Homo sapiens: one gene and its partners. The protein of the gene in region 2 interacts with the protein of the main gene of each other region in a pairwise test. Each region holds a gene or a part of one and is shown on either strand. Other genes may lie near its edges.

Region 1 (4,621 bases), on a different chromosome or scaffold from region 2:
AATTGCCCAACATGGCTGCTTCTGCCTTCAAGTGCAGGGGGAGAGAGGCTGCCAGAGGCAGAAATAAAAGGTACACGTCAAGGAGGAGGAGGCAGCGGCGCAGGACAGGAGATCTGGTTCCTCCAGGCCCAGCCGGGTACACAGGCACAGGAAGAGCAGACTCCGGGTGCTCGTCTTGTGTGCCAGGCACTGCCAGGTGCCATCGCCCCGAGAGCATCGGCACTGGCCCCGAATGCTGGTCAAAGGAAGCTAGGTTGGGACACAGGCCGGCAGCGGGTGCAAGATGCCAGGGAGCAGGCGGCCAGGCGGGCCAGCACATGCGGCTGCAGCTCAGCCATCCCCCCCGGGTCCCGGCAGGCTCGGCATGGGTAGGGGACAGCCAGCCCTGGCCACCCCCTCTGGGCCTGGCACCCACCGGTGTTCCCGGATGTCGGCTCGATAATCGTGTCCCCGGGCTTCAGCGTCCCGTCGCGCTCAGCATCCTCAATCATCCGCAGGCTGATGCGGTCCTTCACGCTCCCGCCCGCGTTGAAGAACTCACACTTGGCCACTGGGAGGCAGAGATGAATCACAGAGGGGACCCCCTGACCACCCCCCCATTGATTCCTGCTCACCCCCCCATTACCTGATACACCCCAGGGTGGGGGACGGGCTTGGGGGTCTGTGGGTTCTGAAAAATTGCCACCTCTCCACTCACCTCCCCTACACCTGCACCTGGGCACTAGCCTATCAGAGCTTCTCCCCCTGCAGCCCATCCTACCGGTCCTGCAGGGCGCTGAGCAACTCTGTGGGAACCAGAGAGGCATAAGCAGCCCTCACTGGGGGGCGCCGCAGAAAACCCCGTCCCCCCACCCACGAGCTGGGCTTGTGGCGGGCAGGCGCCTGGATTTGGGTCCCCTACGCCCCTATGCCCAGCCATACCCAGCGGCCCCTGCCAAAGCAGCTTGATGTCCTGAAGCCACAGCACTGGCTTCCCCATCGGATGGGGACTCGCATACTCTCCCTACAGCCTCCCATTGTCCTCCTCCCCCTGTGGGGCGTCACCTGCCCGGGGAAGGGCTCCCTGCGCGGTTCCCGCACAAGGCCAAGGCCTTCACTTGCACTTCCTTCCTTACTGCAAGTCCTCTCTCCCTCTCCAGCTCTTAAAAATATTTAGTTTTTAAGAGCGAGAGACTGGGCTGCATGAAATGTGATTTGAGGGACCTGGGACCAGCCTGCAGCACCTCAAAATTTCTGAAAGCAACCACCAGACAGGTGTTGCCCCTAGAACCAGGACGAGGCGCTGTGTGTGGTGGGGAGGACTCTCGGGGTCTGGCCCTCTACAGGCCTGCATTCTCGGACCCCTCTGGGTCCCATACTGTGAAACCCTCAGTTAGATCATTCTCACTAGCGCCTGGGGGCCAGCTCCGAAGCAGAAATCAGAGCTGGTGGCCTCCGGCAAGCCACGTGACCAACCTGACCCTCGGTGTGTCTGTCTGTAAAACGGGCATTCCAAAACCTACTTCAAGGGCAACCACCAAGTTTAGACGTCATCCTGTACGGAGCACAGTGAGCCAGCCACGCGTGCTGCGTACGAGTTAAGGGTCCCTATTGTCTGACAAATGAGCACAGAGCCGGCCCTGCTGCCTTGGGGGTCTCTGTGAAGGGGGCTGCTCTGCTGCAGCTCCGAGATCTCCTTCCCTAGAGGGGGGCAGAGGAGGGCCAGGCTCCCACGAGGCCCCTCCTGTGAATCGGCGATCGGTTCCCAACGCACCGACCCCTGACTTCCTTCCCCCAGCGCCTGCCCCAGCTCTCACAGGTCCCCCGGCTGGGACATTAGAGCATCTCAGGATGAAAAAGTCCCAAGCCATGTTACTGGTTCCCTCTCCTTCCCACTCGAACTCCACCCCCTCCATCTGGCCCTGTCGCGGGGTTCTCCGCGGCACCCTTCCTGCCTCCCTCCGAACTCACTTGGCCTTGGTCATCTGAAATACGAAATTCCGTCCCCGCCTTGTCCCCAAGGCCTCTGCACCCACAGCTTTCTCTGTGACGATGCTGAGGTCTACCAGGGCTCTGCGCTCTTGGTGAAGAGCGACCCTTAGGAATTCCCTCCACGTTCTTGAGCCTGGAAACTGCGTCCTGCAAAGAAATGCCCTTCCCCGGAGGCCTCAGACCACACCTCAGGTGACCCCCTGCGCACCCAGGACGAGGCCAGCCACAGACCCTCCAAATTCCCATTCTCTGTCTCATAAATGATGAGCTGAACTATCTGTCCCCACGAAGCTGGCAAGACAGAGGTAACCGCTCCCTGGACAGCGGGTGGCTCACAGCACGTGCTAGGACCCGTCCACTGCTCCTTAGCAGGCATGACGCTAACCCTCCCCACCTGCTTGCTTCTGCCTTTGACCCTCACCCGGCCCTTCACACCCTCGCTGCTTCCACTCCGGCCTCAGTTCAAAGGTCACCTGTTCGTTCCCTGGTCCATCTGCTGGGGAGTCACTTTGGTCACCCTCTGACACAATGCCCTGTTGTGTGTTTTTCCCAAACTTAAGCTGATATGTTCTTGGCCACTCATTAACCAGCGAGTTTTCTGATCCCAGGGCCTTGCCTAAGGGATCCATCCCAGGACCCCCCAGGACCCCCCAGGCCCACGGAGCCCAGTGTAGATGGAGGAAGCCCCTCTCCAAAGCCAGGGCACTCACAGAGCTCACACTTCAGGCCGAACTTCTTCCCAATCTTGTTGATTCTGACCATAGGGGTGTCCCCGATTTTCTTCAGAATATCTGGCAAGATTTTTGGAGATTTTGCCCTGAAACAGAGGAGTCCACAATTATTCAGGAAAAAAAAAAAAAATAGTACCAGCCCTGGCAGACATTGTCTTACACAAATCAACACTCGAAGAACTGGAAAAAAAAAAAAAAAAAAAAAAAAAGAACTGGCTTTATCTGGGTGGTGGTTACACAAATCTGTACACAGATACACCTAACACACATCCCACACACACGCCTGAAACACACATACACACACATGCTTAGACATACAAATCTATAAAAAGCAAATCATGCCTGTGGTTTATTTGCACCAATGCCAGCTTCCCAGGTTTGAAAATGAACCTACAGTCGTGGCAGATGTTGTTAGTGGGAAGCTGGGAGAAGGGTACAAAGGATCTATTATTTTTGCCACTTATTGTGAGTAGTAAATTATTTCCAAATAAAAAAGTTAAAATAAGCAAATACTGACTCCAAAACAAAGGTTTAGGTCCACCTTTTCAGAAAGGCTTTACTGGAGATGACATTTCCTTTCATCTCTCAGCATGTGACCATAGGAAGCAAAAAAGTGTCAGGGCAGAGACTCCTTAGACCAGGGACAATGGCTGCAAAGCGCAGGCGGGATGTCTAGCCCTGCACAGAAAATGTCAGGCACGTGGCAGACTCAGAGCCCCGGCAGAGGCGCTGTCGGCCAGGCTCGTGATGCCCTGCCCTGCAGCATCTGGCTGTGTAAACCCTCAAACCCTGGTCCAGGTGGTTTCCTAAATGGCCCTCATGCCCCTGCCATCCTCCCCCAGGGAGATGCTGATGACACCCCCTATCTATCTGCACCAAGCTCACCACATACTCATCTGGGAACACGCATGGCTTACAGCGGTCTCCAGACCCGCAACCCCTCCCTGGGCCTTGCAGCTCCGATGACACCCCGTGGCTAACCCTGGGCCCCCTCTTCAGCACAGTCACCTGCTGAACAGCCAGGGTCCTTGGGTCCTGCCCCCCAGGAGGCGACCCTTAGACCTGGGGTGAACCCAGCTCCCAGAGGTCCTGTGCCATGGAGGGAGTGCCACATTTGCAGGGAGAGCTACCCTGAAGGCCAAAACAGGCGCCAACAAGAGCAGCTGGAATCCAATCGCACCCTTCCCGGGGAGCAGAAGGCAGTCCTGCCAGGTCCCCAAACTGTACAGGGGCCAGGGAGGTTCCCTCAGAAGCAGTTCTCGGCAGAAGGGAACCAGGCTTGGCAGGTGTAGAGAGCCAGGGCCAGGTGGAAAGCCAAGCCCCAGGGTGACAGCGCCGGGGATTAGTTCATTAATTCAGTTCGGGCATCTGGCCAGCCAGGCGGGAAGAGTCCCGCCTCCCTGCAGCAGGTGTGCTGACTCAGCACTGGGCCTCGGTGGCTGTGAAGTTACCTGAGAAGTTTGCAGAGGTGATCAGGGCCAGGCCCAGAGCGCTTAGCAAGAAAAAGGATGTGACTTGCAGGGATAGCCCTGGAGCCCCTTATCTCAAGGACTCCCACTTCCACAGCCCAAGAGGCTCCTGGGAGGACACGCCACTGTCCTAGAATGAACCTCCAACTCCTGACCCACCTCTGCAGCACCTCCCCGCAACGCCACTATTCTCAGGGGCCCTCCGACTGGAGACAAGCGGCGTCGGCTCTGCGTCTCAGGATGGGGGTGTCTTCGGAGGATGAATGAGGCCAGTATGTGAGGTGCAGGTGCAACGCCATTTACAACCTGGAGGGCATCGTCTCCTTCTCATGCCCTAGAGTTAGGAGCTCACGGAGCCCTCAGGAATCGGGCCTGTCTTCCCTGCCCACTCCACCCTCCAGCAGCCACTCCCGACCTCACCGGGCCTCTCACCCACTGCTCTCTTGGGTT
Region 2 (4,621 bases):
TGCAGGTGAGCCATGATCTCGCCATTGTACTCCAGCCTGGGTAACAGAATGAAAGCCTGTCTCTTTAAAAAAAAAAAAAAAAAAGGAGAGGAAAGATTCCAACAACCCACAAAACAAACAAACATTTAAAGGATCAGTCTAGGAGGTCCAGTATCTAAATAGGAGTCATAGAAAAAGAAAAATGGCAACACAGAGGGAAGGAAATAATTGAGGAACTAATTCAAGAACATTTATTGGAACTTGAGGACATTAGTTTTCATATTGAAAGGACCCATCGAATATTCAGCACAATGGATGAAAGTGACCCACCCAAAGCACAGTCATCCTGAGATTTCAGAACACTGGAAACAGAGATCCTATGAGTTTTCAGAGAGAGGAAAAAAAAGTCACATACAAAAAGTCAGAATTGCCTTGGACTCTCAACAACACCAGCAGCTAGCAGGCAATGGAGCAATGCCTTCAACATTCTGCAGGAAAACACATTCCAAGCTTTCCTGCAGATTCTCTATTCAGCCGAATTATAAATCCAAGGATGAGGGTAGAATAAAGATATCTACAGGCTGCAAGGTCTCAAAAACACATACCTCCCATGCACCCTTTCTCAGGAAGCTACTGGAAGATGTGTTCCACCAAAATAAGGGAGTAATCAAAAAAGATAAAAACGCGATATAGGAGCACCAGTAGAGGACAGACGTGAAAGGGGTACCCAGGATGGTGATGAAGAAAGATCCCAGGATGACAGCAGTGCACACCAGACAAACCAGCCCAGATTTGAGCAGGTCAGAAGGCTCCAGGGAGATTTCTTTGGGTAGTTTAAATTTTGATAGACTGTCTAATGCTTTTGAACCTCTTAAAAGGAGATTTAAATAGTTGGTGAAGCATTTGGGGGTTGGATTAGTTATAAGAATTATACATAGAAAATTAAACAAAAGGACAAGACATTAACTCCAGGTAAAACAAAGTTGTGAAGGAAGAAAAAAAAATCAGAGTTTACTATTTGGCTTATCTCTGAATAATAAATATTCAGTCAAAATGATTTAAATACTGGCCGGGTGCAGTGGCTCATTCCTGTAATCTCAGCACTTTGGGAGGCCAAAGCGGGCAGATCACATGAGGTCAGGAGTTCGAGATCAGCCTGGCCAATGTGGTGAAACCCTGTCTCTACTAAAATACAAAATTTAGCCGGGCATGGTGGCGGGCACCTGTAACCCCAGCTACTTGCGAGGCTGAGGCAGGAGAATCGCTTGAACCTGGAAGGCTGAGGTTGTAGTAACCTGAGATCGTGCCACTGCACTTCAGCCTGGGTGACAGAGCAAGACTCCCTCTCAAAAAAAAAAAAAAAAAAGATTGAAATACGGATATAACCAACATTATGGTTTAGCTCCTGGAATAATGAGGAGAATGGGAAGTACGTGTTTGTGGTGGAGTCCTAGTAGGAGAGAGAACTAGAAATTCTCATCTTCTTTGGTAGATAGATGATAAATAATGCCCCAAAATGAAAAAAAAAATGGAAACTAGCAATACAAGCATGTTATTTAAGGACATAGAATTAAGTACCAAAATAATCAACTAAGGTAGATAGATGTTCTCATCTCTGGGGAAGGGTAGTACAGGGAGGTGGGTTGCAAGGAGTGCAATTTTTTCTTAACAAAATTTGTAAAACTGTTGGACTGATTTAACTGTGTGTCTATATAACTTTGGTTAAAAAAATAAATATTAAAAACCAAATTGATTAAAGACTTAAGAGCATGAAGTTTGGAAACAGATCTGGGTTTGTTTGAGTCTTTCTTGCCACTTATTAATGGTGTGACCTTGAGCAGTTTATTTAACTACACCTATTTTCTCATCTGAAACATGAGGACATTACTTACACATTTGTTGTAAGGATTAAATTATGTAATTTTTTTTTTTTTTTTTTGAGACGGAGTCTCACTCTGTCGCCCAGGCTGGAGTGCAGAGGCACAATCTCGTCTCACTGCAACCTCCACCTCCTGGGTTCAAGCAATTCTCCTGCCTCAGCCCCCTGAGTAGCTGGGACTACAGGCACGTGCCACCACGCCTGGCTAATTTTTATATTTTTTTAGTAGAGACGGGGTTTCGCCATGTTGGCCAGGCTGGTCTCAAACTTCTGACCTCAGGTGATCCACCCACCTTGGCCTCCCAAAGTCCTGGGTTACAGGTGTGAGCCACCACGCCCAGCCAATGTAATTTATTTATTTATTTATTTATTTTTTTGACACGGAGTTTCACTCTTGTTGCCCAGGCTGGAGTGCAATGTTGCGATCTCGGCTCATCGCAACCTCTGCCTCCCGGGTTCAAGCAATTCTCCTGCCTCAGCCTCCCGAGTAGCTGGGATTACAGGCATGCGCCACCATGCCCGGCTAATTTTGTATTTTTAATAGAGACAGGGTTTATCCATGTTGGTCAGGCTGGTCTTGAACTCCCGACCTCAGGTGATCCTCCCACCTTGGCCTCCCAAAGTTCTGGGATTACAGGCATGAGCCACCACGCCCAGCCTCAATGTAATATTTTTAAGTGCACGTAGTATAGTATGTAGCACATTCAAGCTATTATTTTGGGAGATTACTTCCCTAGTTTAGAGCAAGCAATTAAAATCACAGGAATAGAAAAAGGTAAACTAGCCAGGATCTCCCATTTGTCTAGAGTAGGTGGGATGATTTCTGATTTACAGGGTGATCCCAGAATGGACTATCAGGGTGTTTTGAGCCAGGTTGATTGAGCACTGGGCTCCAACTTATTGTTAATGAGAAATGGCCCAACTTGGACCATGACTTTCCCATTTGCAGGTCTTAGAATAATTTTTTTTTTAATTGAGACAGGGGTTCGCTGTGTTGCCCAGGCTGGCCTCGAGCTCCTGGGTTCAAGTGATCCTCTGCCTCAACTTCCTGAGTAGCTGGGATTACAGGTGCTTGCCACCATCCCCAGCACAGTCTTGGAAGAATTTTAAGAAGCTTACTTCATTGAAAAAAGAGGAAAGTGAAAATGTGCTAAGTATATGAAAGGGAAAGCTTGGATTAAAGATGAGAAACATTTTTAGACTATAACATGTTAAAGAGAGATACTATAGGCTTTATGTTTTAGTCAACTTCTTTTACCTATAGGGACCAATAGATAAAGTCTTAACCTGGAGACAGGGGTTGGATGAAATGGTTTCTAAGAGGTTTATCCAGGTTTTGTGGAAACAATAGGAACAAGACAGATAAAATAAGGGGTCTTATTAAAAAATAATGCTCTAAATATTTGAGATACTAGAACACTATTTTGTTTTCTGTCTCTTTTGATTGGGAGTTTTTATGTGGAAGGAAGCTACTAACTATCCCACCCTATGCAGAGACCCCAGAATCCAACAATAGCGTGTATACTTCCTTCATGAAGTCTCATCGCTGCTATGACCTGATTCCCACAAGCTCCAAATTGGTTGTATTTGATACGTCCCTGCAGGTGGGTGAAATCCTCTTTTCCCTTCCCCCTTTGGAGCCTGTGGTTTAATACCTCTCATCCTATCTCATCCTAAGGGTAATATCCTTATCCTTCTGTGAAGTTAGTCTCATGTTTTACCCAACATGCCCAAACACTGTTCTTTTTTTACAGTCCTGCCCCTGTGGATTTGCCTTTATGATTATTACTGTCTTGGCTACAGGTGAAGAAAGCTTTTTTTGCTTTGGTGACTAACGGTGTACGAGCTGCCCCTTTATGGGATAGTAAGAAGCAAAGTTTTGTGGGTAAGCAAAAGTTTCTGGAACACAATATTATTGGCATCTTGTGCTGGGCAGGGAGACAAGCTTCAGGCAGTGCTGAGGGCTCTGTCTTGTCCTCTAGGCATGCTGACCATCACTGATTTCATCAATATCCTGCACCGCTACTATAAATCAGCCTTGGTAAGGAACCTTAACCCAATGACCAAAATCACTTTCCCTGCCCTAAATCCCTCATTCTCATTTCTTTTTCTCCAAGCAAGCCACGAGGGCTTAAGGAAGCAGAGAGATCAGGTCTCAAATTCTGTTGCTTCTGCTTTCAGGTACAGATCTATGAGCTAGAAGAACACAAGATAGAAACTTGGAGAGGTATGTAGAGAATTGGGGTTATAAAAGGATAAAGGGATGGCGGGTTTCTGGGAAACACTTTTCCATGGTGGTATTTTGTGACCCATCCCTTTTCCCTTCAGAGGTGTATCTCCAGGACTCCTTTAAACCGCTTGTCTGCATTTCTCCTAATGCCAGGTGAGTTCCAGTTACCCATCTGTCCAAAAAGCGGAAGAGATTTTGTCATCAGCCTAGCTAATGCCCTAGACACCCAGGGAAAGGGGAAGAAGAGAGAAAAGACACACACACACACACACACACACACACACACACACACACACACACACAGTCTCTCTCTCTCTCTCATTCTCACTCTCTCTCTCTCTCTCTTTCTCTTTAAGTCTGGCCTGTACACTGCCCCCCTTCCCTAACCATCAGTTTTCCCTGTTGAGCAATACACTGTATGGACCTGTTTAATCACCCCCAGCCCCAGCACTGTGGAACTTATTATCTCCCACCCTCTCACAGCTTGTTTGATGCTGTCTCTTCATTAATTCGGAACAAGATCCACAGGCTGC
Region 3 (4,621 bases), on a different chromosome or scaffold from region 2:
AGCTTTCTCTCTTTTTAAAAATTCCTGTTATGATGCTTCTTTGAACTGTTTGAAGGCAAAGACAATATTTTTTCATTGTTCCCTACTGCTTAACATAGTAGGCACTCAGTAGTTTAATTGCTGAATGAGTTAAATGAGCTAGTACATATTAAATGCCAAGAGATGGGGTCTTGCTATGTTGCCAAGGCTGGTCTTGACTCCTGGGCTCAAGAGATCCTCCCACCTCGGCCTACTGAGTAGCCAGGAGTACAGGCAGGTGGCAGCACACATCTCACCTCATTGTTTTTAGATTTATCCTCTGATCTTTTCTAGTCCTTTCTTCTCCCATTCTTATTGGGAGGGAAGAGGAGAGTAGGGCTGGGCTCCCTCTCAGGAAAAAGAAAGGAAAACAGCCATCCTATAGCTGTTCTTCCCTGAAAAATGGTGACAATTTCAGGAACTTGGGACAAGGCTGGTGCCAAGAAAGGGGAAGGTCAGGAAGCCCCAGCCGAAGCCCAGGTAACCTGCACCAAGAACACTGGCCGGCACCCCCGACCCTGGCTTACTGCATTCTCTCCTGAAGCTGCTTTTACTTTCCTTCCTGAAGCCAGACTCTCGGTGGTGCTCAAAATAAACACTGGCACAGACTGCTCTGGAGGCTGGAATCTTTAGAAAGGAAGTGCATCCTGTCCCTCTGGCTCCTGGGAAACTCCTAGACTGGCTGGATTCCCAGTAGGTTTGGTTGGAAGTCTGGGATCCTGGGAACCTTGACAAGAAAGTAACTGGAATCTGACTGGTAGATCTCTAGGGTGATCTGTTCCTCTGGCCCTCTCTAACTGGTTCCATGGGTTTGCTTGTCTTCCTCGCTGCCCTGAGTGGAGCTGAGTCTCAGGGAGGCTGATGAGGTGACCAGGGCAGGAGTCTGGGAGACTGCCTCCAGCCCTGGTTCCTGCTATAGTAAAAATGGCAGGGAGGCCAGACGCGGTGATTCATACTTATAATCCCAGCACTTTGGGAGACTGAGGTGGGCGGATCGCCTGCGCTCAGGAATTCGAGACCAGCCTGGGCAGCATGGTAAAACCCTGTCTCTACCAAAAAAAAAAAAAAAAAAAATTAGCTGGGTGTGGTGGTGTGCACCTGTGGTCCCAGCTACTCAGGAGGCTGAGGTGGGAGGATCACTTGAGCCTGGGAGGCAAAGGCTGCAGTGAGCCGAGATGGCACCACTGCACTCCAGCCTGGGTGACAGAGTGAGACCCTGTCTCTAAGAAAAAAAAAAAAAAAAAAGAAAGCAAAATGGCAGGGACTTAGCCTCTGCCAGGGAGCAGTGCTTGGGCTTGTCAGGGAGAGAATGAGTACGGTCGTGTTTCTGCTATTGTCTCCTCCTGGGCTGTCTCAGCTGGTTCGTGTCTTCTCTTCCCTCTCCCATGTACAGCACTGAGATTATGAGGCTCTGGCCTCCACTGGCCACTCACTCGTGACCCTTTCCACCACGGCGGAGCCTTCCAAGCCTACCTCCTGCCGTGTGGTGATCTACCTGCAGCGGGAGATGTCGGGGGACACCTGCCTGTGCCCAGCCTCAGGGGCCAAGCCCAAGCTCAGTGGCTTCAAGGGAGGAGGGTTGGGCAACAAGTATGTCCAGCTCAACGTGGGCGGCTCTCTGTACTACACCACTGTGCGGGCCCTGACCCGCCACGACACCATGCTCAAGGCCATGTTCAGTGGGCGCATGGAGGTGCTGACCGACAAAGAAGGTGAGGCACTGGGGCTGCCGCTCGGGGTGGGGAGGGCAGGAGGAGTTCCCAAGGAAATGACCAGATCTAGAATTCAGTCACTTTTCCTCTTCACTTTATGTAGGGTGTCTTCACCTGGAGTCCCTAGTAGAGCTTCAGAATTCTGTGAAATTGTATATGGAATGCTGTGTTTATGCATTTTCCAGGAAGAAGAGCCATACTTTTAAAATATTTAAATAGGACAAGATTCTCATAGGAGCCGTCACCTTAAGACTGGGCAGCGGGCAGAAGGCCGGCAGTGGCTGGTGGTTTCTGTGTTGGGCTGGGCCTGGTACCCTGAGCCTAGGCCCCTGTGGCTTCTACAGCCTGGAGGGCTGTATCCCCCGTGGGATGTGCCAGTTCTGGGTTTCAGAGAGGAAGGGTGAAGAGCAGCCATGGGCCTGAGTGCTAGAACCTCCATCCCCGCCTCTGTCACCCTGCGTAAGGGCTTTGTGCTCGTGGACCCCCTTCCCTGCCACCTGCCGCCAGCTTGTCAGGTGGCCTTTGCCTGCCTCGGAGGTACCTGGCGGCAAACTAACCCTGTAGGGCCTTCTGCACCCCTAGGCTGGATCCTCATAGACCGTTGTGGAAAGCACTTTGGCACCATTTTGAATTACCTCCGAGATGACACCATCACCCTCCCTCAGAACCGGCAAGAAATCAAGGAATTGATGGCTGAAGCAAAGTATTACCTCATCCAGGGGCTGGTGAATATGTGCCAGAGTGCCCTGCAGGTACATGGGTGGGGCGGAGCAGGGCGGGCAGATGAGGTCAGGAGTTGCCCCCTTCTTGTGGGATGGAGGACTCTGGTTCCTGGCAGGTTGTGTGGGAGGCGTGGTTGATGAGTGCAAACCTAATGAGACAAGTGAGATGCCACCCAGGCCCACCAACCTGGCAGCCAGGTGTTCACACTTGGCAGCGTGAGTAGGCCCTGCTTCTGGTTTCTATGCTTTGCTACCCGGATTTTAGGGGGTTTTTCTGTTTTTGCTTTTGTTTCTGTTTTTGTTTTTGTTTTTTGAGACAGGGTTTCACTCCTGTCACCCAGGCTGGAGTGCAGTGGTGCGATGTCAGCTCACTGCAACTTCTGCCTCCTGGGTTCAAGTGATTCTCGTGATTTGGCCTTCAGAGTAGCTGGGAATGCCAGCATGCGCCATGGCACCCAGCTAATCTTTGTATTTTTTGTAGAGATGAGGTTTCACCATGTTTTCCAGGCTAGTCTCGAACTGCTGGGCTCAAGTGATCTGCCTGCCTCAGCCTCCCAAAGTGCTGGGATTGCAGGTGTGAGCTACCGCACCCGGCCTGGATCTTGGGTTTTCTAACTGGGGGTCTGCTTTCCAGCTGGCAGTTTCTATTGTCAGGGGCCTCATGATCTGTATCTGACACTTCCTCACCAAGCAGCGGGTGGCCATGGCAGAGGGGCTCCAGAGGTATACCTCGATAAGCCTGGGAAGCAGAAGATCCTAAAGAGGGTTCTCTGTTCTGTGTCGCACAGGACAAGAAGGACTCCTACCAGCCTGTGTGCAACATCCCCATCATCACATCCCTAAAGGAGGAGGAGCGGCTCATCGAATCCTCCACCAAGGTACCAGGACCTCTGAGGGGTGCGGGCCGGGGATGCCAGTCCCCTGGCCTGGCCCCTCACTCTGAACTCCTTCACAGCCCGTGGTGAAGCTGCTGTACAACAGAAGCAACAACAAGTATTCCTACACCAGGTAGGGTGCGTCACAGGGCTCAACAGACACTGGGCAGCAGACCCAAGGAGTACTGCCTGTACTCCCAGCACGGTCGGCGTGGGTCTGGGCCTGGGTCTTGGAACTGGCTGTGCCAAGTTGGGGAAAAACAGAAAGTAGAAGGGAAATTGGGACAGAGGCCTTTGGAACTCAGCAGGGTGCCCTGGCTGGGATATAAATGATTGAAGGTGAAATGCGCCCTCAACGTGTATCACGAAGGCAGCATGGCAGGTGTTTTCACACGTGTCATCCTACCGGGTGGAGGGGATGCTAGGAGGCCGGTGAGCTGGGAGTCCCCCAAGCCAGCCTGTGCAGTTCACACTGGGCCGATTCCCTCCCCACACCCTCCAGGCCATGTCCTCTCCATAGGCCACAGTTAGGTAGACGCAGGTGGCTGCAGGTTCAGAGTCCCAAACCCTCCCTATGATTCCCTGTGGCCAGGCATATTGCCACTGTCACCCCCACAGTAAGGGAAGGAATGCCTCCCACTGACATAGCAGCCTTGTCTCCTTCCTTCCAGGGTTAGTGAGGGGAGACCTCCTTCCTCAGCTGTCCCTACTTTGACTTAAAACCAACTGAGTTCCTTTTCCTCACAGGCCCCCCAACCCAGAGGGTACCCTATGATCCTTTCTCTCCTGGCCCCCTGGCATCTTGCTTTCATTTCGGCAGGACAGGATGGGGGAAGGGAGGGAGGGGAGGGCCCCACTTGTCTAGCACCCTCCCTTGGACTGGAACCTCACTCCCAGCCGCTTGGCCCTCATGTTTTTTTCAGCAACTCTGACGACCACCTGCTGAAAAACATCGAGCTGTTTGACAAGCTCTCCCTGCGCTTCAACGGCCGCGTGCTCTTCATCAAGGATGTCATTGGTGACGAGATCTGCTGCTGGTCCTTTTATGGCCAGGGCCGTAAGCTGGCAGAGGTGTGCTGTACCTCCATCGTGTATGCCACGGAGAAGAAGCAGACCAAGGTGTGGGGGATTGCCCCTGCCTGGGTAGGGGAGGACACACACCCACTGTGCGGGGGACGTGGTCGGGCTGTGACCAGCACGGAGCAAAAGGGGCATGGACTTGGCTCTTTTTTCCAAACACGGTAATGGTGCTGGGCAAGGACAAGGCCAGAACAAGGGGTGTGGGGAATGGACG
Region 4 (4,621 bases), on a different chromosome or scaffold from region 2:
CCCATCGCACTGAAAGACTAAAGTTTCAGAAGCTACTGAGAGCCAGGAATTTCAGAGCCCAGAGATGCCTGTAGGAAAGTTTTTAGAAGAGGGATGTTGGCAGAGGCCAGTTTCCTCATGATTGTCGATAACATTCTATTTCTAACTTGAATGATTTTCAGTATCCCCTTTTCATTGTTAAGATTTTTAATTTACCTTATTGCTAGCAGCGATACAAGAAATACATTTTTTTTTCTTTTTAATAGAGACTGAGTCTCACTGGTCTCAAACTCCTGGGCTCAAGCAATCCTCCCTCCTCAGCCTCCCAAAGTGCTGGCATGAGCCTCCAACCCTGGCCCCTTTCTCTTTTGGAGATAGGATCTCACTCTGTCACCAAGGCTGGAGTGCAGTGGCACAATCATGGCTCACTGCAGCCTTGACTTCCTGGGCTCAGGTGATCCTCTCATCTCAGCCTCTCAAATAGCTGGGACTACATGGGTGCACTACCACGCCCAGCTAATACTTTCTGTATTTTTTCTAGAGATGGGGTTTCGCCATGTTGCCTGGGCTGGTCTCGAACTTCCAGACTCAAGCAATCCACACACCTTGGCCTCCCAAAGTGTTAAGATTACAGGCGTGAGCCACCGTGCCCGGTCAAGAAATACATTTCCTTAGTCAGGGTGCTGGCTGGATAGTTTCATATGCCACTGAGAGAATTTAGGAGCATTTGCCTCTGACATTTGTGTACATTCTTTCATGTCATAGATTATGGGGGAGCTTCAAATGGTTTAAAGGGAGTTTTCCTGGATACTTCAGGTTAAACAGAGAAAGTATCGGGGAAAACTAGGTATACCAGAAAGGGAGACTCTGAGAGAGAAAAAGACAGGCCCCAGGGAAGAAATGAACCACAGAACCACAGTGAAGTTTCAGGTCTCTGGGAGAAACACTGGCTATCGTAACAACAAAACAATATCAAAAGGACAATTCATGAAGACATCAAGAAGTACTTGTTCTGTTGGCCGGGCACGGTGGCTCATGCCTGTAATCCCAGCACTTTGGGAGGCTGAGGCGGGCAGATCACGAGGTCAGGAGATCAAGACCATCCTGGCTAACACGGTGAAACCCCATCTCCATTAAAAATACAAAAAAATTAGCTGGGCATGGTGGCGGGAGCCTGTAGTCCCAGCTACTCAGGAGGCTGAGGCAGGAGAATGGCGTGAACCCGGGAGGCAGCGCTTGCAGTGAGCAGAGATCGTGCCACTGCACTCCAGCCTGGGAGACAGAGTAAGACTCCGTCTCAAAAAAAAAAAAATCAAAAAAAGGACTTATTCTGGGGATTATTAAAGGAGTTTTCTCTCTGTGTGTGTGTGTGTGTGTGTGTGTGTGTGTGTGTGTGTGTGTGTGTGTTGGAAAGGGGAGTAATTTTATCATTATGTCTTAAAATGAAATAATTCACGGGACCCAAAAGGGCAGACATTGACAACACCGTTCAGCAAATACACAGTGTGCTGCTTCCTTACAGCTGTTGTTGGCAAAATGCCACACAAAAGTTATCAGCAGCTGACAATACTCACCACAAACAAACAAACAAACAAAACGAGTGATAGAAACTCGGTAGTAACAATCCTGGTGAGGAGTAAATACAAGTCTCACTGGTGTTTTTGGGAGACCTGTGGGAAGGGCCAGTGGAGGAGAGCCCTCTTGGGACAACTGAACACCACAAAGGGTCATTTCTCCCCTGATCCCAAAGCCCTCGATCTTACACTAACTGCTGGCCAGCAGCCTAGACCAAGTCTCCGAGGAGGAAAGCACTCATTAGTGTAATAGACCGCTTCACCCTCAAACTGGAACTTAAATTGCCAAAATCATTACATGCTTATTACAATTCATTCAAGCTTCAGAACATAAAATTGATACAGAAGGGGAAGGGGGCGTGGCAGGACCTACAGGTTCATAGTTCGGTTTTTCCACCCTCACCCTCAACAACTCCCTGAGATTAAAATGAACAAAGGAATTTTTTTTCTTTTTTCTTTTTTTTTTTTTTTTTTAGGAGAAGGGTGTACTCCTACTATTTCAAACTTAAATATCTTCTGAATAAGAAATGGCTTTCCAGTTCTGTTTGGTAAATTCTCTCAAGTCAGATTTTAAATCGTACACCCAAAAAAAATCCTTGATTTTTTTTTAGCATAAATCTATCCTACTTTACATAAATAACATACATTATGAGAACGGAATTTGCAACACAAAAAGACGGTTATTCATGTTTCCAAAGGGATCAACATTTGAGTTTCTTTCAATGGGTGGCTCTACTGTTTTGTTCACAATGTGGTTTTGTGTCACCTCAACTTTTCAGAAGCACATGGACTACATACATCAAAGTCCACTTGTGCTTTTATTAAAAGTACCCCCAAAGCATTTCAAATGTCACTGTATACATCCCCACAGCTATCTTGTTAAAGGCAAAATACATACATACATACATACATACATACATACATACATACATAAACAACATAATCCTCCTTCATTGCCAACCATTCAACAGTACATTCTGCCCCATAAGCCTTTTTAAACACACTGGGCTCAGCTCGTGGGATTCCTGAAGTGCAATAGCCCTAACACTGTTTTCCAAGGTAGAGATTTCTAAAAGGTGAGATGGAGTACACAGTTGCTTCAAACAGTGTGATCCAGATACAAACACAGTCCCAACATGCACCAGATATGAAATCTCTGTGCCAGAAACCAGGGTCACTGGCACCATGGAATCAAGAACCATTTTCTGTGTGTAAAGTACTAGGTGCCTAGATCTGCCAGTAAGCATCTACCAGTTTCCTAGCATAAAAGTCAGCAAAAGTCAGGAATGAAGCAGCAGGAAAGACAGGGAGTTACACAGTGAGCCTCAACAAAGGTCTCAGAGCAGCTGGGCACTAGCGAGGGCCGCCAATTCTTTCTTACAACTTGAAGGTAATAACAGAGGAGAGGTGATGGTTACTGAGCATTTACAATGGCAAAGCTGTTTGAAGCGCCTTCACACGCATTCACTTATGGTACCTGTTAAACTCCGGGACAGTGATTATGAAACTTTTTGGATGCCTTTACACTCTTTTTATTTATTTATTTATTTATTTATTTATTTATTTATTTATTTGAGATGGAGTTTTGTTCTTGTTGCCCAGGCTGGAGTGCAATGGCACGATCTTGGCTCACCACAACCTCCACCTCACGGGTTCAAGCGATTCTCCTGCCTCAGCCTCCCAAGTAGCTGGGATTATAGGCATGCGCCACCACACCCAGCTAATTTTGTATTTTTAGTAGAGACAGTGTTTCTCCATGTTGATCAGGCTGGTCTCAAATTCCTGACTTCAGGTGATCCGCCTGCCAATCCCAAAGACCTTTTTGTTTATGTGGGTTATATCCACTGATATTTATTGTATTTGAAATTAAAATGAAAAAATAGATATTAACATATTTTAAAATAATACGACTTGGGCAACATAGGTAGGCTTCATTTCTACAAAAAGTAAAAAATTCCACTGGGCCCAATTGTTCATGCCTATAATCTCAGCACTTTGGGAGGACAAGGTGGGAATATTACATGAGTTCAGGAGTTCAAGACCAGCCTAGGCAACAAAGTAAGACCTCATTTATACAAAAATCAAAAAATTACCTGGGCATGATGGCACACACCTGTGGTCCCAGCTACATGGAAGGCTGAGGTAGGAGGATGCCTTGAGTCCACTGGGTTGAGGCTGCAGTAAGCCATGTTCATGCTACTGCACTCTACTCTGGGTGATAGAACAAGCCTTGTCTCAAAATAAATAAATAAATAAATAGCTGGGCATGGTGGGACATGCCTACAGTCCCAGCTACTCAAGAAGCTGAGGTAGGAGGGTTGCTGGAGCCTAGGAGGTTGAGGCTGCTGTGAGCTGTGATCACACCACTGCACTCAGCTTGGGCGACACAGAGACCCTGTCTCAAAAATAAATAAATAAAAAGAAAAAACAATAGTAAACCTATTACACATTAAACATAAATAACATTTTTATGACCAATAACAATATTTTTCCAAAGCAAAAAAAAAATTAGTGAAAAGCATGGCACTGTTTTACAATTTTGCAAATCTCCTTAATGTCTGGGCTTATCAAAGACAGTTGGACTTTCCTATCTGCATCTGTGTTCAATCTGTTGTACTATCTCAGCTTATGTAGACACAAGAAAACTTCACTGTAGTCTTGTGAGAATGAGAATGAAATGGGAAAATTAATATCTTAGTATTATTATGAAAATAGTTTTGACCTTGCAGACCTCCAGTAAAAGTCTTGGGGACTGCTGGGGGTACCCAGGTCACACTTTCAGAACCTCTGCCTTATGAGTTAGGAGATATTATCTCCATTTTTCAAATGGGCAAACTGAGACAGAGAGGTCAAGGAATTGTCCAAGGCCATACTGCTAGAATAGCTCAGAGTAGCTAAAATGCAATGAGCATAACAGATTTAACCTCAATTGTTTGTTGCAAGGATTGAATGAGATCGTGAATATAAAGAGCAGGACATCCTGCTTGTCTTATCACAAATGCCCAATAACATTAATGTTTCCCCGCCAGGTGCGGTGGCTCATGCCTGTAATGCCAGCACTTTGGGAG
Region 5 (4,621 bases), on a different chromosome or scaffold from region 2:
GTTGGGAGCATTCTGTTTTTTCATGAGTGCCCATGGGACAGACAGGGAGAAATGGACAGTTGAAAGTACAAGTCTAGACAGGCACAGTGGCTCATGTCTGTAACCCTAGCACTTTGGGAGGCTGAGATAGGAGAATTACTAGGGTTCAGGAGTTTGAGACGAACCTGGGTGACATAGTGAGAGCTCATCTCTACAAAAAATAAAATTAGCTCGGCATGGTGCTGCAAGATTATAGTCCCTGTTAGTCGAGAGGCTGAGGTGGGAGAACTGCTTGAGCCCAGGAGGGAAAGCAGCAGTGAACTGAGATCACGCCACTGCACTCCAGCCTGGGCGACAGTGAGACCCTGTCTCAAAAAAAAAAAAAAAAATGCAAGTCTGGAGAAATATAGCTGGGAGTCAGTAATGCCAGTTTTAGCTGAGGGAGTTAAGATCATTTAATCAGTGTTAAGGAAGAAACTCAATAGTAGTGACCACCAATACTTAAGGAAAAAGGATAAAGTAAGAGGAATGATAAAGGCTGGCTGAAATATCTTGGTGTCTAGCCTAAGAAAGGAGGGGTTAGATGCTCATGTTTATTAATATGGATCTAGAGAAGCATTTATTCACTAATACATTTTATTTGTGTTCTCTAATTTAAAATTACCTTTTCATCTTGCTTGATTTTCCTTCAGCTAAATTAGAAATTTGTAGTTTTTCCCCTAAAAAATTCAATGGCATTCTTTCTTATAAATTACATTCTCTGATTTTCTTGTCAGCCTGCTTCAAGGAAATCCATGTGTTCAAAATGCTTGCTCGCAGTTTGCTCCATACCAAATGGTTGCTTAACCCAAATATCTGAGCAGCAAATTGAGCTGATCCTTCTGGAGAAAGTACGGTTGAACAGCCAAGACCTATTGGTTCAGCAAGGAAAAGACAGAAAATTGAGCTCAATTAGTAATGAAAATACAACCTTACAAAAAATTTTATACTCAGAGCAGTCCTGCCACAGAAAATAAAAAGCTACTGCATTATTCTAATCTAAAGTAGAATCTGTACAACTGTCTTTAATACCGGAGTGGTAAAGTGATTACAAGAGGAAAAGCAGTCAGTATTACCTGCCATGAAGAGATATTTTATATATATCATCTATCACCCTTCTTATAGAACTCACTTACAAAGAAACTTATCTTTTTGAAACTTCTGTTCACATACACTATCCCTTTCAATCCCTGGCGAAGAACAACTGAAGCAAAATAAGGGTCAAGGTAAGAGTACAAAAGTACCTGTTCTTAGACAAACTTGAGCTATGTTGTTTTGACAGTTTTCTAGCTAATCTTTCTATCTGCATTTGAACTATTTTAATATTTTTGAGCAGTAAAAGTCAAATCCGTAGAATAATTTTAGGAAATGTCAAGTTATAAATAAATATTAATAAGATCCAAGACAGCAGAATAAAAAAGTAACATCCTAGGGGCCACATGTCTGCTCAGGCAGAGTGTCTTGAGGTGGTACTATTATGTCTAGTGTTTGCTAGAATCAGGGGTACTATTATGTCTAGTGTTTGCTATAGTTCCAAAAGCTCGATTTTCCCGATATTCTTGGAATTCATCAGGCTCTTTGACTCCCATTATCCACAAGAACAGAGTCAAATACAAATCACAAGGCCAATTTACTAATTTGTATTAATACGTTATTTTATGGAGCTCCACCCCTTAATATGTGGTATTGGTCAAGTTACTTCACGTTAATTTATTCTCCTCTTCTGTGAGAAGGGAATTTTAACTAGTAGCTACCTGATGTGACACTTCAATGAGTTAATAACATAGATAAAGTGCTTAGAGCATTGCCTGGTACACAGTATGTGCTCCAAGAATGTCAACCACTATTGTTAGCACGCTAGGTAGAGTGCTCCACTCTAATATTTGAAATAACCTGTGCCTCCTGCCCAGGACTCCCTTTCTGGTAAAAGAATAGCTTAAATTGCAGAAAAAAAAAAAAAAGTTATCTAGTGAGCATGACATCAGAGATGAGAAATATGGGCGGTCTTCAGGATTTTACACAGGTTACTGTAAAACTACTCCTCAAAAGATTATCCCCAATTCTAGTGATCATTATGTACAAGTCTTCCAGATTATTTGTCACTCCTGAAACAACACTACTATAAAAACTGCCAATTTTTTGCTTATCATGCTCCCCTTTTGTAAGCTCCATGGGTATCTATACAATTCCTCTGGCATAAATTTGGTTACAGCTTTATTTGTAGCCGCTGATTTTTAGCTTGAGACATTTGTATAATCACATCTTGTTAAAGATAGCTTAGGCACAAAATTTAATTCTCAGAGCCTATAAAAACAGTAAAGGAAATAGGCATGAACACACAAGGCCAGATAACAGCAGTAACATTTTGGCAACTGAAAGGCAAACACAGTGGTAGCTAAGTTAGCAGACCAAGAAAACTTAATCAAAATTAGCTGGCATGGTGGTGCATGCCTGTGATTTCAGCTACTTGGGAGGCTGAGGCAGGAGAATCGCTTGAACCTGGGAGGCGGAGGTTGCGCCATTGCATTCTAGCCTGGGCAACAGGAGCGAAACTCCATTTAAAAAAAAAAAAAAAAAAAAACTTAATTCTAAACTGAAAGCAGGGAAAGATGAGAAGCAACATGACTGACATTACAGAACTCCCCCAAAGGGTGACTGACTAAATTAGTGGCACCAGATACCTTTGGAAGGGAATAGGGACTAAGAAGAAGATGACTGACTCGAAGTCTAAGAAGAAGCTAGGTCCTCAAATCTCCTTCCCCACTCCATCTACCTGAGTAACTGCCTCTTTAAAGCACTGTAGCAATTTTTTTCTTTTTAAACATTATTTTTTTCTGAGACACGGTCTCGCTCTGTCATCCGGAGTGCAGTGGTGCAATCACGGCTCACTGCTGCCTCAACTTCCCAGGCTCCAGTGATCATCCCACCTTGGCTTCCCAAGTAGCTGGGACCACAGGCGTGTGCCACCATGCCTAGCTAATTTTTGTATTTATGGTAGAGATGGGGTTTCGCCAGGTTGCCTAGGCTGAGCTCAGGCAATCCACCAATCTCTGCCTCCCAAAGTGTTGGGATTATAGGCATGAGCCACCAAGCCAGGCCTTTAATTTTTCTGAAGGTAAAACAGACTTCAGTCTTGGCGTCTTTGAACTAGGGGACGCCAGGCACAGACAACTTTTGTTCTCTGAGTAATTCTGGTCAACACTTAAGAAAATACCTAGACACTAATGTGAGGGGTTGTTTGAAGAACAATCCCTACCAGATACACCCCACAGTGAAGCCCAATTTTGACACGGACCACCCACTTGAAGTTTCCAATTGTTTTTTATAGTATTCCACTCTTAAAAGCGCAAACAGCCAAGGATTACCAGACAGCTGAAGAAAGTAACTATATGCAACAGACTATAATCATCTCCAGAGAACAAAAAAGAGCTTTTGGAAATTTAAAAACATACAAACACAAACAACAACAACAACAAAAACCCAGAAAACAAAAACCAAAAGAAATATAAAAACATTGTGTAAAAAAAAAAAAAAAAACCCCAGAGGCAGTGGTTCCTACCCAATCCCAACACTTTGGGAGGCTGAGGTGGGAAGATTGCTTGAGTCCAGGAGTTCAGGACAAGCCTGGACAACATACGGAGTGCCCATCTCTACAAAAAGTAAAAAAATTAACCAGGTGTGATGGTGTGGGCCTGTAGTCATAGCTACTTGGGAGTTTGAGGTGGGCGGATCACATGAGCCCGGGGAGTTCAAGGGTCCAGTGAGATATGATCATGCCACTGTGCTCCCACCTGGGCAACAGAGCAAGACCCTGTGTCAAAACAAACAAAAAACACCTGTATCCAAAATGAAGGCCGGGCACAGTGGCTGACGCCCATAACCTCAGCACTTTGGGAGGCCAGGGCAGGCAGATCACCTGAGGTCAAGAGTTCGAGACCAGCCTGGCCAACATGGTGAAACCACATCTCCACTAAAAATACAAAAATTAGCCAGGCGTGGTGGTGCATACCTATAATCCCAGGTACTCAGGAGGTTGAGGCACGAGAACCGCTTGAACCTGGGAGGCGGAGGCTGCAGTAAGCTGAGATTGCGCCATTGCACTCCAGCCTGGGCAAGAGAGCCCGACTCCGTCTCAAGAAAAAAAAGAAAAACTCAATAGAAGGGTTGGAATGTAAAATTTAGGAAATATTCCAGAAAGTATACCAACAAGACAAACAAGTAGAATAGAAATCAAGGGAAGCCCAAATTTATTCAAATTCAAAAATGAGAAGAGAGAATATGGAGGGGTATGAAAATTAAATAATTCAAGGAAAATGGGGACTAAGAAATCAGAATTTCAGATTAAAAGAGCTCACCGAAAGTCCATAATGAAAACAGACTCAGCACATCACATCTGTGTAAAATTTAAGAACAATGAAAACAGACAAAAGATCCTGAAAGATTCCAGAGAGAAACAAAATTCATAAGAAACCTAGAATCAGACTGGTGGAAAAGCAATGGAGTCCTCAACTGTGGATGCTAGGAGACAGTGGAGTAATAATGCTCCCAAAATTCCAAAGCAAAATGATTTTCAGCATAGGATTCTATTTCTAAACTATCAAGT

Evidence for each region.
Region 1: the proteins of PRKAG1 (region 2) and CBS interact in binary tests that used the Homo sapiens proteins (3 or more experiments, as listed by UniProt).
Region 3: the proteins of PRKAG1 (region 2) and TNFAIP1 interact in binary tests that used the Homo sapiens proteins (3 or more experiments, as listed by UniProt).
Region 4: the proteins of PRKAG1 (region 2) and AP1S3 interact in a two-hybrid assay, tested with the Homo sapiens proteins (one large-scale study listed by BioGRID and IntAct).
Region 5: the proteins of PRKAG1 (region 2) and PAICS interact in a two-hybrid assay, tested with the Homo sapiens proteins (one large-scale study listed by BioGRID and IntAct).

What each region holds. Positions count from the first base shown.
Region 1 is NC_000021.9:43,065,828-43,070,448, forward strand, and holds part of CBS (cystathionine beta-synthase), read right to left. Parts: intron 2,789-4,621; coding exon 2,682-2,788; intron 2,578-2,681; exon of another isoform or gene 2,230-2,577; coding exon of another isoform or gene 1,951-2,229; exon of another isoform or gene 807-1,950; coding exon of another isoform or gene 698-806; intron 551-697; coding exon 416-550; intron 1-415. UniProt on the Homo sapiens protein: Hydro-lyase catalyzing the first step of the transsulfuration pathway, where the hydroxyl group of L-serine is displaced by L-homocysteine in a beta-replacement reaction to form L-cystathionine, the precursor of L-cysteine.
Region 2 is NC_000012.12:49,004,584-49,009,204, reverse strand, and holds part of PRKAG1 (5'-AMP-activated protein kinase subunit gamma-1), read left to right. Parts: intron 1-605; exon of another isoform or gene 606-779; intron 780-3,352; coding exon 3,353-3,462; intron 3,463-3,612; exon of another isoform or gene 3,613-3,661; coding exon 3,662-3,743; intron 3,744-3,813; coding exon of another isoform or gene 3,814-3,840; coding exon 3,841-3,899; intron 3,900-4,039; coding exon 4,040-4,085; intron 4,086-4,186; coding exon 4,187-4,241; intron 4,242-4,571; coding exon 4,572-4,621. UniProt on the Homo sapiens protein: AMP/ATP-binding subunit of AMP-activated protein kinase (AMPK), an energy sensor protein kinase that plays a key role in regulating cellular energy metabolism.
Region 3 is NC_000017.11:28,337,997-28,342,617, forward strand, and holds part of TNFAIP1 (BTB/POZ domain-containing adapter for CUL3-mediated RhoA degradation protein 2), read left to right. Parts: intron 1-1,411; 5' UTR 1,412-1,525; coding exon 1,526-1,730; intron 1,731-2,312; coding exon 2,313-2,482; intron 2,483-3,240; coding exon 3,241-3,330; intron 3,331-3,407; coding exon 3,408-3,460; intron 3,461-4,250; coding exon 4,251-4,446; coding exon of another isoform or gene 4,447-4,568; intron 4,569-4,621. UniProt on the Homo sapiens protein: Substrate-specific adapter of a BCR (BTB-CUL3-RBX1) E3 ubiquitin-protein ligase complex involved in regulation of cytoskeleton structure.
Region 4 is NC_000002.12:223,830,799-223,835,419, forward strand, and holds part of AP1S3 (AP-1 complex subunit sigma-3), read right to left. Parts: intron 1-4,621. UniProt on the Homo sapiens protein: Subunit of clathrin-associated adaptor protein complex 1 that plays a role in protein sorting in the late-Golgi/trans-Golgi network (TGN) and/or endosomes.
Region 5 is NC_000004.12:56,455,641-56,460,261, reverse strand, and holds part of PAICS (bifunctional phosphoribosylaminoimidazole carboxylase/phosphoribosylaminoimidazole succinocarboxamide synthetase), read right to left. Parts: intron 891-4,621; coding exon 724-890; 3' UTR 1-723. UniProt on the Homo sapiens protein: Bifunctional phosphoribosylaminoimidazole carboxylase and phosphoribosylaminoimidazole succinocarboxamide synthetase catalyzing two reactions of the de novo purine biosynthetic pathway.